Linked DNA regions of Homo sapiens: region 1 is linked to region 2. Evidence: fine-mapped expression QTL. A gene starts in region 2. The other region holds a variant in brackets. All regions are shown on one strand. Distances are from middle to middle. Region 1 overlaps BRD7 (bromodomain containing 7). Region 2 holds the start of ADCY7 (adenylate cyclase 7).

Evidence for each region. PIP is the estimated chance that this variant, and not a neighbour inherited with it, causes the effect.
Region 1: its variant is the best candidate, but not a certain one, in a credible set for the expression of ADCY7 in whole blood (TOPMed, PIP 0.74).

Annotation. Positions count from the first base shown.
Region 1 is chr16:50,343,200-50,348,199 of GRCh38, reverse strand. The region is part of intron 5 of BRD7 (bromodomain containing 7); the gene reads left to right. Among named protein-coding and RNA genes, the nearest start is that of BRD7, 23 kb to the left of the region's middle. The variant G/A (reference allele first, on the strand shown) is at 2,964.
Region 2 is chr16:50,263,989-50,269,516 of GRCh38, reverse strand. ADCY7 (adenylate cyclase 7) reads right to left here and starts at 2,966. Exons shown (of 26, transcript NM_001114.5): 1 at 2,837-2,966. RefSeq lists enhancers at 3,194-3,283, 3,229-3,822, 4,890-5,069.

The DNA of each region.
Region 1 (5,000 bases), 79 kb before region 2:
CCAGTTTTCCCAGCACCATTTATTAAATAGGGAATTCTTTCTCCCTTTCTTGTTTTTGTCAGGTTTGTCAAAGATCAGATGGTTGTAGATGTGTGTTATTATTTCTGAGTGCTCTGTTCTGTTCCATTGTTCTCTGTCTCTGTTTTGGTACCAGTACCATGCTGTTTTGGTTACTGTAGTCTTGTAGTATAGTTTGAAGTCAGGTAGTGTGATGCCTCCAGCTTTGTTCTTTTGGCTTAGGATTGACTTGGCAATGCAGGCTCTTTTTTGGTTCCATATGAACTTTAAAGTAGTTTTTTCCAATTCTGTGAAGAAAGTCATTGGTAGCTTGATGGGGATGGCATTGAATCTATAAATTACCTTGGGCACTATGGCCATTTTCACGATATTGATTCTTCCTACCCATGAGCATGGAATGTTCTTCCATTTGTTTGTATCCTCTTTTATTTCATTGAGCAGTGGTTTATAGTTCTCCTTGAAGAGGTCCTTCACATCCCTTGTGAGTTGGATTCCTAGCTATTTTATTCTCTTTGAAGCAATTGTGAATGGGATTTCACTCATGATTTGGCTCTCTGTTTGTCTGTTATTGGTGTATAGGAATGCTTGTGATTTTTGTACATTGATTTTGTATCCTGAGACTTTGCTGAAGTTGCTTATCAGCTTAAGGAGATTTTGGGCTGAGACGATGGGGTTTTCTAAATATACAATCATGTCATCTGCAAACAGGGACAATTTGACTTCCTCTTTTCCTAATTGAATACCCTTTATTTCTTTCTCCTGCCTGATTGCCCTGGCCAGAACTTCCAACACTATGTTAAATAGGAGTGGTGAGAGAGGTCATCCCTGTCTTGTGCCAGTTTTCAAAGGGAATGCTTCCAGTTTTTGCCTTTCGGTATGATATTGGCTGTGGTTTTGTCATAAATAGCTCTTATTATTTTGAGATATGTCCTATCAATACCTAGTTTATTGAGAGGTTTTAGCATGAAGGGCTGTTGAATTTTGTCAAAGGCCTTTTCTGCATCTATTGAGATAATCATGTGGTTTTTGTCTTTGGTTCTGTTTATATGCTGGATTACGTTTATTGATTTGCATATATTGAACCAGCCTTGCCTCCCAGGGATGAAGCCAACTTGATCGTGGTGGATAAGCTTTTTGATGTGCTGCTGGATTTGGTTTGCCAGTATTTTATTGAGGATTTTTGCATCGATGTTCATCAGGGATATTGGTCTAAAATTCTCTTTTTTTGTTGTGTCTCTACCAGGCTTTGGTATCAGGATGATGCTGGCCTCATAAAATGAGTTAGGGAGGATTCCCTCTTTTTCTATTGATTGGAATAGTTTCAGAAGGAATAGTACCAGCTCCTCTTTGTACCTCTGGTAGAATTTGGCTGTGAATCCATCTAGTCTTGGACTTTTTTTGGTTGGTAGGCTATTGCCTCAATTTCAGAGCCTCTTATTGGTCTATTCAGGGATTCAGCTTCTTCCTGGTTTAGTCTTGGGAGGGTGTATGTATCCAGGAATTTATCCATTTCTTCTAGATTTTCTAGTTTATTTGCATGGAGGTGTTTATAGTATTCTCTGATGGTAGTTTCTATTTCTGTGGGATCAGTGGCGATATCCCCTTTATCATTTTTTATTGCATCTATTTGATTCTTCTCTGTTTTCTTCTTAGTCTTGCTAGTGGTCTATCAATTTTGTTGATCTTTTCAAAAAACCAGTTCCTGGATTCATTGATTTTTTTGAAGGGTTTTTTGTATCTCTATCTCCTTCAGTTCTGCTCTGATCTTAGTTATTTCTTGCCTTCTGCTAGGTTTTGAATGTGTTTGCTCTTGCTTCTCTAATTTTTTTAATTGTGATGTTAGGGTATCAATTTTAGATCTTTCCTGCCTTCTCTTGTGGGCATTTAGTGCTATAAATTTCCCTCTACACACTGCTTTAAATGTGTCCCAGAGATTCTGGTATGTTGTGTGTTTGTTCTCATTGGTTTCAAAGAACATCTTTATTTCTGCCTTCATTTCGTTATGTACCTGGTAGTCATTCAGGAGCAGGTTGTTCAGTTTCCATGTAGTTGAGCGGTTTTGAGTGAGTTTCTTAATCCTGAGTTCTAGTTTGATTGCACTGTGGTCTGAGAGACAGTTTGTTATAATTTCTGTTCTTTTACATTTACTGAGGAGTGCTTTACTTCCAACTGTGTGGTCAATTTTGGAATAAGTGCAGTGTGGTGCTGAGAAGAATGTATATTCTGTTGATTTAGGGTGGAGAGTTCTGTAGATGTCTATTAGGTCTGCTTGGTGCAGAGCTGAGTTCAATTCCTGGATATCCTTGTTAACTTTCTGTCTCGTCGATCTGTCTAATGTTGACAGTGGGGTGTTAAAGTTTTGCATTATTATTGCGTGTGAGTCTAAGTCTCTTTTTAGGTAACTCAGGACTTGCTTTATGAATCTGGGTGCTCCTGTATTGGGTGCATATATATTTAGGATAGTTAGCTCTTCTTGTTGAATTGATCCCTTTACCATTATGTAATGGCCTTCTTTGTCTCTTTTGATCTTTGTTGGTTTAAAGTCTGTTTTATCAGAGACTAGGATTGCAACCCCTGCCTTTTTCTGTTTTCCATTTGCTTGGTAGATCTTCCTCCATCCCTTTATTTTGAGCCTATGTGTGTCTCTGCACATGAGATGGGTTTCCTGAATACAGCACACTGATGGGTCTTGACTCTTTATCCAATTTGCTAGTCTGTGTCTTTTAATTGGAGCATTTAGCCCATTTACATTTAAGGTTAATATTGTTATGTGTGAATTTGATCCTGTCATTATGATGTTAGCTGGTTATTTTGCTCGTTAGTTGATGCAGTTTCTTTCTAGCCTTGATGGTCTTTACAATTTGGCCTGTTTTTGCAGTGGCTGGTACTGGTTATTCCTTTCCACGTTTAGTGCTTCCTTCAGAAGCTCTTGTAAGACAGGCCTG[G/A]TGATGACAAAATCTGTCAGCATTTGTTTGTCTGTAAAAGATTTTATTTCTCCTTCACTTATGAAGCTTAGTTTGGCTGGATATGAAATTCTGGGTTGAAAATTCTTTTCTTTAAGAATGTTGAATATTGGCTCCCACTCTCTTCTGGCTTATAGGGTTTCTGCTGAGAGATCTGCTGTTAGTCTGATGGGCTTCCCTTTGGTGGGTAACCTGACCTTTCTCTCTGGCTGCCCTTAACATTTTTTCCTTCATTTCAACTTTGGTGAATCTGACAATTATGTGTCTTGGAGTTGCTCTTCTCGAGGAGTATCTTTGTGGCATTCTCTGTATTTCCTGAATTTGAATATTGGCCTGCCTTGCTAGGTTGGGGAAGTTCTCCTGGATAATATCCTGAAGAGTGTTTTCCAACTTGGTTCCATTCTCCCCATCACTTTCAGGTACACCAATCAGATGTAGATTTGGCCTTTTCACATAGTCCAATATTTCTTGGAGGCTTTGTTCATTTCTTTTCACTCCTTTTCCTCTAAACTTCTCTTTTTGCTTCATTTCATTCATTTGATCTTCAATCATTGATACCCTTTCTTCCACTTGATCAAATCGGCTACTGAAACTTGTGCATGCATCACGTAGTCCTCGTGCCATGATTTTCAGCTCCATCAGGTCAGTTAAGGTCTTCTCTACCCTATTTAATGTAGTTAGCCATTCGTCTAATCTTTTTTCAAGGTTTTTAGCTTCTTTGCAATGGGTTCAAACATCTTCCTTGAGCTCAGAGAAGTTTGTTATTACTGATCGTCTGAAGCATTCTTCTCTCAACTCATCAAAGTCTTTCTCCCTCCAGCTTTGTTCCGTTGCTGGCAAGGAGCTGCGTTCCTTTGGAGGAGAAGAGGTGCTCTGATTTGTAGAATTTTCAGCTTTTCCGCTCTGGTTTCTCCCCGTCTTTGTGGTTTTATGTACCTTTGGTCTTTGATGATGGTGACATACAGATGGAGTTTTGGTGCGGATGTCCTTTCTATTTGTTAGTTTTTCTTCTAACAGTCAGGACCCTCAGCTGCAGGTCTGTTGGAGTTTGCTGGGGGTCTACTCCAGACCCTGTTTGGGTATCACCAGCAGAGGCTGCAGAACAGCAAATATTGCAGAATGGTACATGTTGCTGCCCGATCCTTCCTCTGGAAGCTTCATCTCAGAGGGGCACCCAGCTGTATGAGGTGTCAGTTGGCCCCTACAGGGAGGTGCCTCCCAGTTAGGCTACTCGGGGGTCAGGGACTCACTTCAGGAGGTAGTCTGTCCGTTCTCAGATCTCAAACTCCATGCTGGCAGAACCACTACTCTCTTCAAAGCTGTCAGACAGGGACGTTTAAGTCTGCAGAAGTTTCTGCTGCCTTTTGTTCAGCTATGCCCTGCCCCCAGAGGTAGGCTCCACCCAGTTCGAGCTTCCCGGTGGCTTTGTTTACCTACTCAAGCCTCAGCAGTGGTGGGCGCCCCTCCCCCAGCCTCACTGCTGCCTTGCAGTTCAATCTCAGACTGCTGTGCTAACAGTGAGTGAGGCTCCGTGGGCATGGGACCCTCTGAGCCATGCGCGGGATATAATCTGGTGTGCCATTTGCAAAGACCATTGGAAAAGCACAGTATTAGGGTGGGAGTGTCCTGATTTTCCAGGTACAGTCTGTCACAGCTTCCCTTGGCTAGGAAAGGGAATTCCCCAACCCCTTGTGCTTCCTGAGTGAGGTGATTCCCTGCCCTGCTTCGGCTCACACTCTGTGGGCTGCACCCACTGTCCGACAAGCCCCAGTGAGATGAACCCAGTACCTCAGTTGGAAATGCAGAAATCACCAGTCTTCTGCATCACTCATGCTGGGAGCTGTAGACTGGATCTGTTCCTATTCGGCCACCTTGGAACCTATCACTACACACTTTCAAACAACCAGATCTTGTGAGGACTCATTATCACAAGAACAGCAAGGGGGATATCTGCCTCCATGATCAAATCACCTCCCACCAGGTCCTTCCCCCAACATTGGGGATTACAATTCAACATGA
Region 2 (5,528 bases):
CACGCAGAAGGCCTCGTCCTACCTCTTCTCTCCCGCAGTGGGCCCAGCGAAGTCCAGGCACAGGGCAGGGTAGGGGAGGCCCTCACAGGAGCCCAATTCCTCATCTTCCCAGTAAGGACCACCCCCACGAATCCCTCAGCACCAACCAGAGCCCCTGTTCTCAGCTTTGCCCCATCTGATCTCGCCAAAGACACAGTGTGCTGGCCCTGACTCCAGGCTCAAATGTGGCAGCAGACCACACTGTGGTGGGCACAACTGGATGCCTGAGGACCGATCTGCTGGGTTATTCAGGATAGACAGCCCCTCTGGGCCCTGTCTCCTCTGTAAACTGGAGGTGAACGGCACCTACCATATGGAGCGGTGGAGGAGGTGGGGAATGGGTCAAATCAGTAGCTATAAATTGTAGAGTGGGGTGCATGTCCCCAGTGCAACCATCGAGTCGGACTTTTGTCTCTTTTGAAAAATTTATTTATTTTGAGACAGGGTCTCATTCCGTCACCCAGGCTGGATGGAGTGCAGTGGCACAGTCATGGCTCACTACAGCCTCCAACTCCTGGGCTCAAAGGATCCTCCTGCCTTAGCCTCCCAAGTAGCTGGGACTACAGGCACACGCCACCACACCCAGCTAATTTTTGTATTTTTTGTAGAGACGGGGTTTCGCCATGTTGCCCAGGCTGGTCTCGAACCCCTGGGCTCAAGTGATCCGCCCACCTTGGCCTCCCAAAGTGCTGGGATCTTTTCTCCTTTTGAGACTCTCCTGTGGCCTGTCCAGAGGCCACACTCCAGCCCAATTTCTACTTCCTGAGCTCTCCCTACACCAACCTCCATGCCCTCAAGCAAACCTCCCAGACCTACTCCTGGCAAAGATGTTCTGCAATACCACCTTCACCCTCATCACCCGGAAAACAGCTGCTAGTAAACAGCTGCTTCTTTCATGAAAACAGCACTAGAAGGCTGGGCGTCGGGCTCATGCTTGTAATCCCAGCACTTTAGAAGGCTGAGGCGGTAAGATTGCCTGAGCTCATGAGTTCAAGGTTGCAGTGAGCTATGACCACTCCACTGCACTCCAGCATGGGTGACAGAGTGAGATCCTGTCTTAAAAAAAGAAAAGAGGCTGGGGGTGGTGGCTCACACCTATAATCCCAGCACTTTGGGAGGTCGAGGTGGATGGATCATTTGAGGTCAGGAGTTTGAGACCAGCCTGGCCACCATGGTGAAACCCCGTCTTTACTTTACTAAAAATACAAAAATTAGCCAGGTGTAGTGGTGTGGTAACTGTAGTCCCAGCTACTCAGGAGGCTGAGGGAGGAGGACGGCTTAAGCCCAGGAGGCAAAGGTTACAGTGACCCAAGAGGGTCACTACTGCACTCCAGCCTGGGCAACAGACAGAGACTCCATCTCAAAAAATAATAATAAATAAAAATAAGAAAGAAAGAAAATACCACCGGAGACGCTACCTCCACAAAGCTCACACCTGCCCTTCTGAGGGCCACAGAATCTGGAACAATCTGAGAGCCTCCCCTCCCCCACACTCTGCACCAGGAGCTGCAGGTAAACCTTGGGAACCCAGGGCCTCTGGAGGTGGGAAGACAGACAACTGGGTGGGAAGCGAAGGCTGTGCAGCAAACGCCTTCCTGAGCTGCAGCCCCCTCAGCCTCCTGCACTTCCTGCAGGGCTGGCACTTGGCACTTCCTCTCAAATTGGCTGGCTTGTCACTTTTATGTCTCCTTTGGCCTCGTCTAAGACAATAATACAGTCATGATGTCACAATGGCAATGTCCTATTTACAGATTTTTTTTTCCCCAAGACAAATACTTAGATTTTAAACATGTCCTTCCACACACAGGCTAGAACCCCCTGTGATTCCCTGGGCAGCCCGGTCCTCACTCCGAGAAACACTGGTGTTGAGTCCACCCCTCACAGCCTCCATCTGCAAGATGGTGATGCTAGTGAAGGCCCACGGTCACATAGCCCTTCCAGACACATCCAGCCCACACTGGCTGCCCGTCCAGGCCTTGGACCCAGGGCCCCTGTCGTAGGTGGCTCGGCCTGGCCCCTACCTCCAGGCCCTTGGCTTCCCCCTCCCGGCCCTCCCTTCTCCTCTCCAGCAATGGCTGTCCAGGGAGGAAGCCCCCAGCCACAGATGTCCCTGCCCTTGACCCTGATGTGATGACACAGAGAAGAGGCAACTGCCTCACCCTCTGTACATACATGTTTAGATGAATGCATAGAAAGCTCCAGAAAGACCCGCTCCAGAAAGACCCACTCCAGATGGCCCATGCGGTCCCTGGGGGATAGAGGAGAGGCATTGCAGGGAAAGGGAAACCAGTCTGCTTTTTGGAGGCATCTTGGTTTCCTGACCCTCAGGCATGCACTCCTTTCAGAGGTTTTGTTTGTTTTTTGTTTTATAATTTCATAAAATTAGTTGAATTGGCCTTCCCTTGCCAATGTTTCCTTTCATTGAGAAAAGTCATGTGTGCTTGTAAATGTAAAATTACACCCTCGAGAAGGAGTGTGGACATTTGAGAGTCTGTGGTTCCTAGAATTCCAGATGGAACGGGCCACATGTACAACATTGTGGTCACAACCGCACTTTCTTGTCAGGCTGGGAAAAGCCAGTGACAAGTCGCCTCTGGTCCCCTGTTGAAGGGCCGCCTCTCCCAGCCATCTGCCCAGTAGGCTCACGGAGCCTCCTACTCCCCCAGCCCAGACCCTGCCCAGTGCACTCCCAGGCCAGGCTGCCGGGTGAGCTGCTTCCCACCCACTGTCCAGCCCCGTCCCCTGGGGCTCAAGCCACTAGGACTGGTGACACTCCATCCCCACACCCCACTTTTACCTGGCTCTCCTCCCCGGCCCCAGCAGCCGGCCAGGGTCTGCAGGGAGGTGGCCCGGCCCCCGCCTGCCCTTCCTCAGACGCGCCCAGGCTCACCCATCCGAAGGCTCCTTCCACGCTACCTAATGAGAGTGAGTCACATCTGGGACCCACCACTTCCTGCTCCGGCAGCGGCAGCAGCGGCGGCGGCGGCAGCAAGGCTAAGGCACAGCCCACAGCCCAGCCTCTCGGGGTGTGCAGGGCCCCCTCCCCCAGCCACAGTGCTGCTCTCCGCAGCCTGGGAGCTGCCAGGCCTGGGAGCTGTCGGGCTCCAATGACTTCATGGAAATTTGAAGCTTGAAGCTGGAACAATTTTGAAAAAATAATAATAAAACAAGCACCAAAAACCTCCATTAGAAGCCCCAAGACAACTGTTCAAAGTGGGGAGCAAATGCATCCTTAGTGAGCAATTAGCAATTAGCGGCCTGGCCTGAGCCTCCTGTGGGCTCTGACGCTCACAGACAGGCCCCCCGCGCCTTCCTGGGACTCAATTTCCCTATCTATGTAGTAAGGTGGCCCCGTCCACCTCTGAGAGGGGCCCAGGAGAGGTCAAAGATCTTCCAGCCCAGCCCACTGCCTCTCCATCTCACCTACGCTCCCATGCTGGGAGCAGGGCAGGGGCAGGCCCATCCTTGGGGCTCCTATTCCAAAATCAGAGTCCCTGGAGAGCCCCCAACATCCCTGGGCACCATGAGGCTGGGAATCAAACCCCAGCACCCCTTCTGCTATGCCAGGCCTCAGTTTCCCCACTGGGATCATGGGGCGCTCAGTGGCGAGGGAGCAGATCAGGAGAGGCTAAGAGGAGAGAGTGGAGACTCCCAAAACAGAGGGGGAGGCCTCCAGCCCGCTGGCCACAGCAGCACCTGGTCCTCAGGGAGCCCTTCTGAGCATGTGACTGGCATCCTGGGATTACGAGCTCCTCAAAGCAATGGTGTACCTCCTCCACCTCCCACATCCAGGGTCAGACACCCCTCTTCTGGTCTTCTAACCCCTGCACCTTCCTCCATCACAGCACCTCTGTGCTGTGACCACTGGTTGCTGGTCTGTCTTTCCTAGGTTATATCCTTGAGGAGGGCAGAGATGGGAGGGCAGCTGTAATATCAACAGCTGTGTCCCCAGCGTCCAGCCCCAGCTGGTCACAGAGTAGACATCCCACACATACTGATCAGGAGGAACTGAACATGTTAGGTGCTGTCTCTGTGCCAGGCCCCATGCAGGGAACTAGCAGGTGATCTAAGGTCTGCCATCTGGTGGAGACAGGCATAGGACTCACACAGGGTTCCAGGCTGCTCCAGAGGCCACAGGAGGGAGTGGGAGACCTCAGGGGATCCTCCCCATCAGGGTCGCCCTCCTATCAGCAAATGTCTCCCTAGCAAATGTCCCAGAGCAGAGAAGGAACAGACATCATCATCATCAAAAGAGGGGAAAGACAAGCCACTGACTAGGAGAAAGTCACATCCTATATGACTGACAAAAGACTCCTCCCTAGCATATATAAAGATCTCCCAGGCTTGGCATGGTGGCTCATGCCTGTAATCCCAGCACTTTGGGAGGCTAAGGTGGGCGGATCACCTGATGTCAGGAGTTTGAAACCAGCCTGGCTAACATGGCAAAATCCCGTTTCTACTAAAAGCACAAAAATTAGCCAGGCGTGGTGGCATGAGCCTGTAATCCCAGCTACTTGGGAGGCTGAGGCAGGAGAATCACTTGAACCTGGGAGGCAGAGGTTGCAGTGAGCCGAGATCACACCACTGCACTCCAGCCTGGGCAACAGAGTGAGACTCTGTCTCAGAAAAAAAAAAAAAAAAAAAGACCTCCCACAAACCAATAAGAAAAAGACAAATGGCCCAATTAAAAGATGAACAAGAGACTTACACAGGTACTTCAACAAAGAGGATGCCAAAATGACCAATAAGCACATGAAAAAGATACTCAACATCATTAGCCACCAGCAAATTAAAACCATATAGAGATTCCACTGTACCACTAGAATGGCTAAAATTAAAATGAAAATACCAAGTGTTGACAAGGAGGAGAAGCAGCTCTTCACTCTCATGTACTGCTAGTGGGAATGTAAAATGGAGCCACCATGATGAAAACTGCCTGGCAGTGTGGACAAAAGCAAACCATATGCTTCCCCAATGACTCAGCAATTCAATCTCAGGTATTTACCCAAAAGAAATGAGTACATGTGTCCACAAATGACTTCTATCCAAGTGTTCAGAGAAGCTTTCATCCTAACAGTCAAACTGCAAACCCAAACATCCTGCAATGAGTAAATGGATAAACAAATTTTCATATATTCACACAACAGAAAATTACTCAGCAGTAAAAAGGAACAGATCACTGCTAACACACAACATGAATGAATATCCAAGATGGCAAGGACAGTGAAAGACCCACCCACAAAAGACACATTCAGCACGTTTCCATTTATATGAAACTTCAGAAATGATGAAACTAATCTACAGTGACAGACAGCAAGACAGCGGTTGCCTCTAGGGAGGCCGCTGATTGGAAAGGGGCACACAGGAAACTTCTGGGGGCTGAGGAGGTTCTAAATCTCCCTGTGGGTGCTGGTTATACAGGCGAGTGCCTAAGTACACTCATTACCCTGTACATTGAAGGTTTGTGCACTTGCCTGTATGTAAATTAC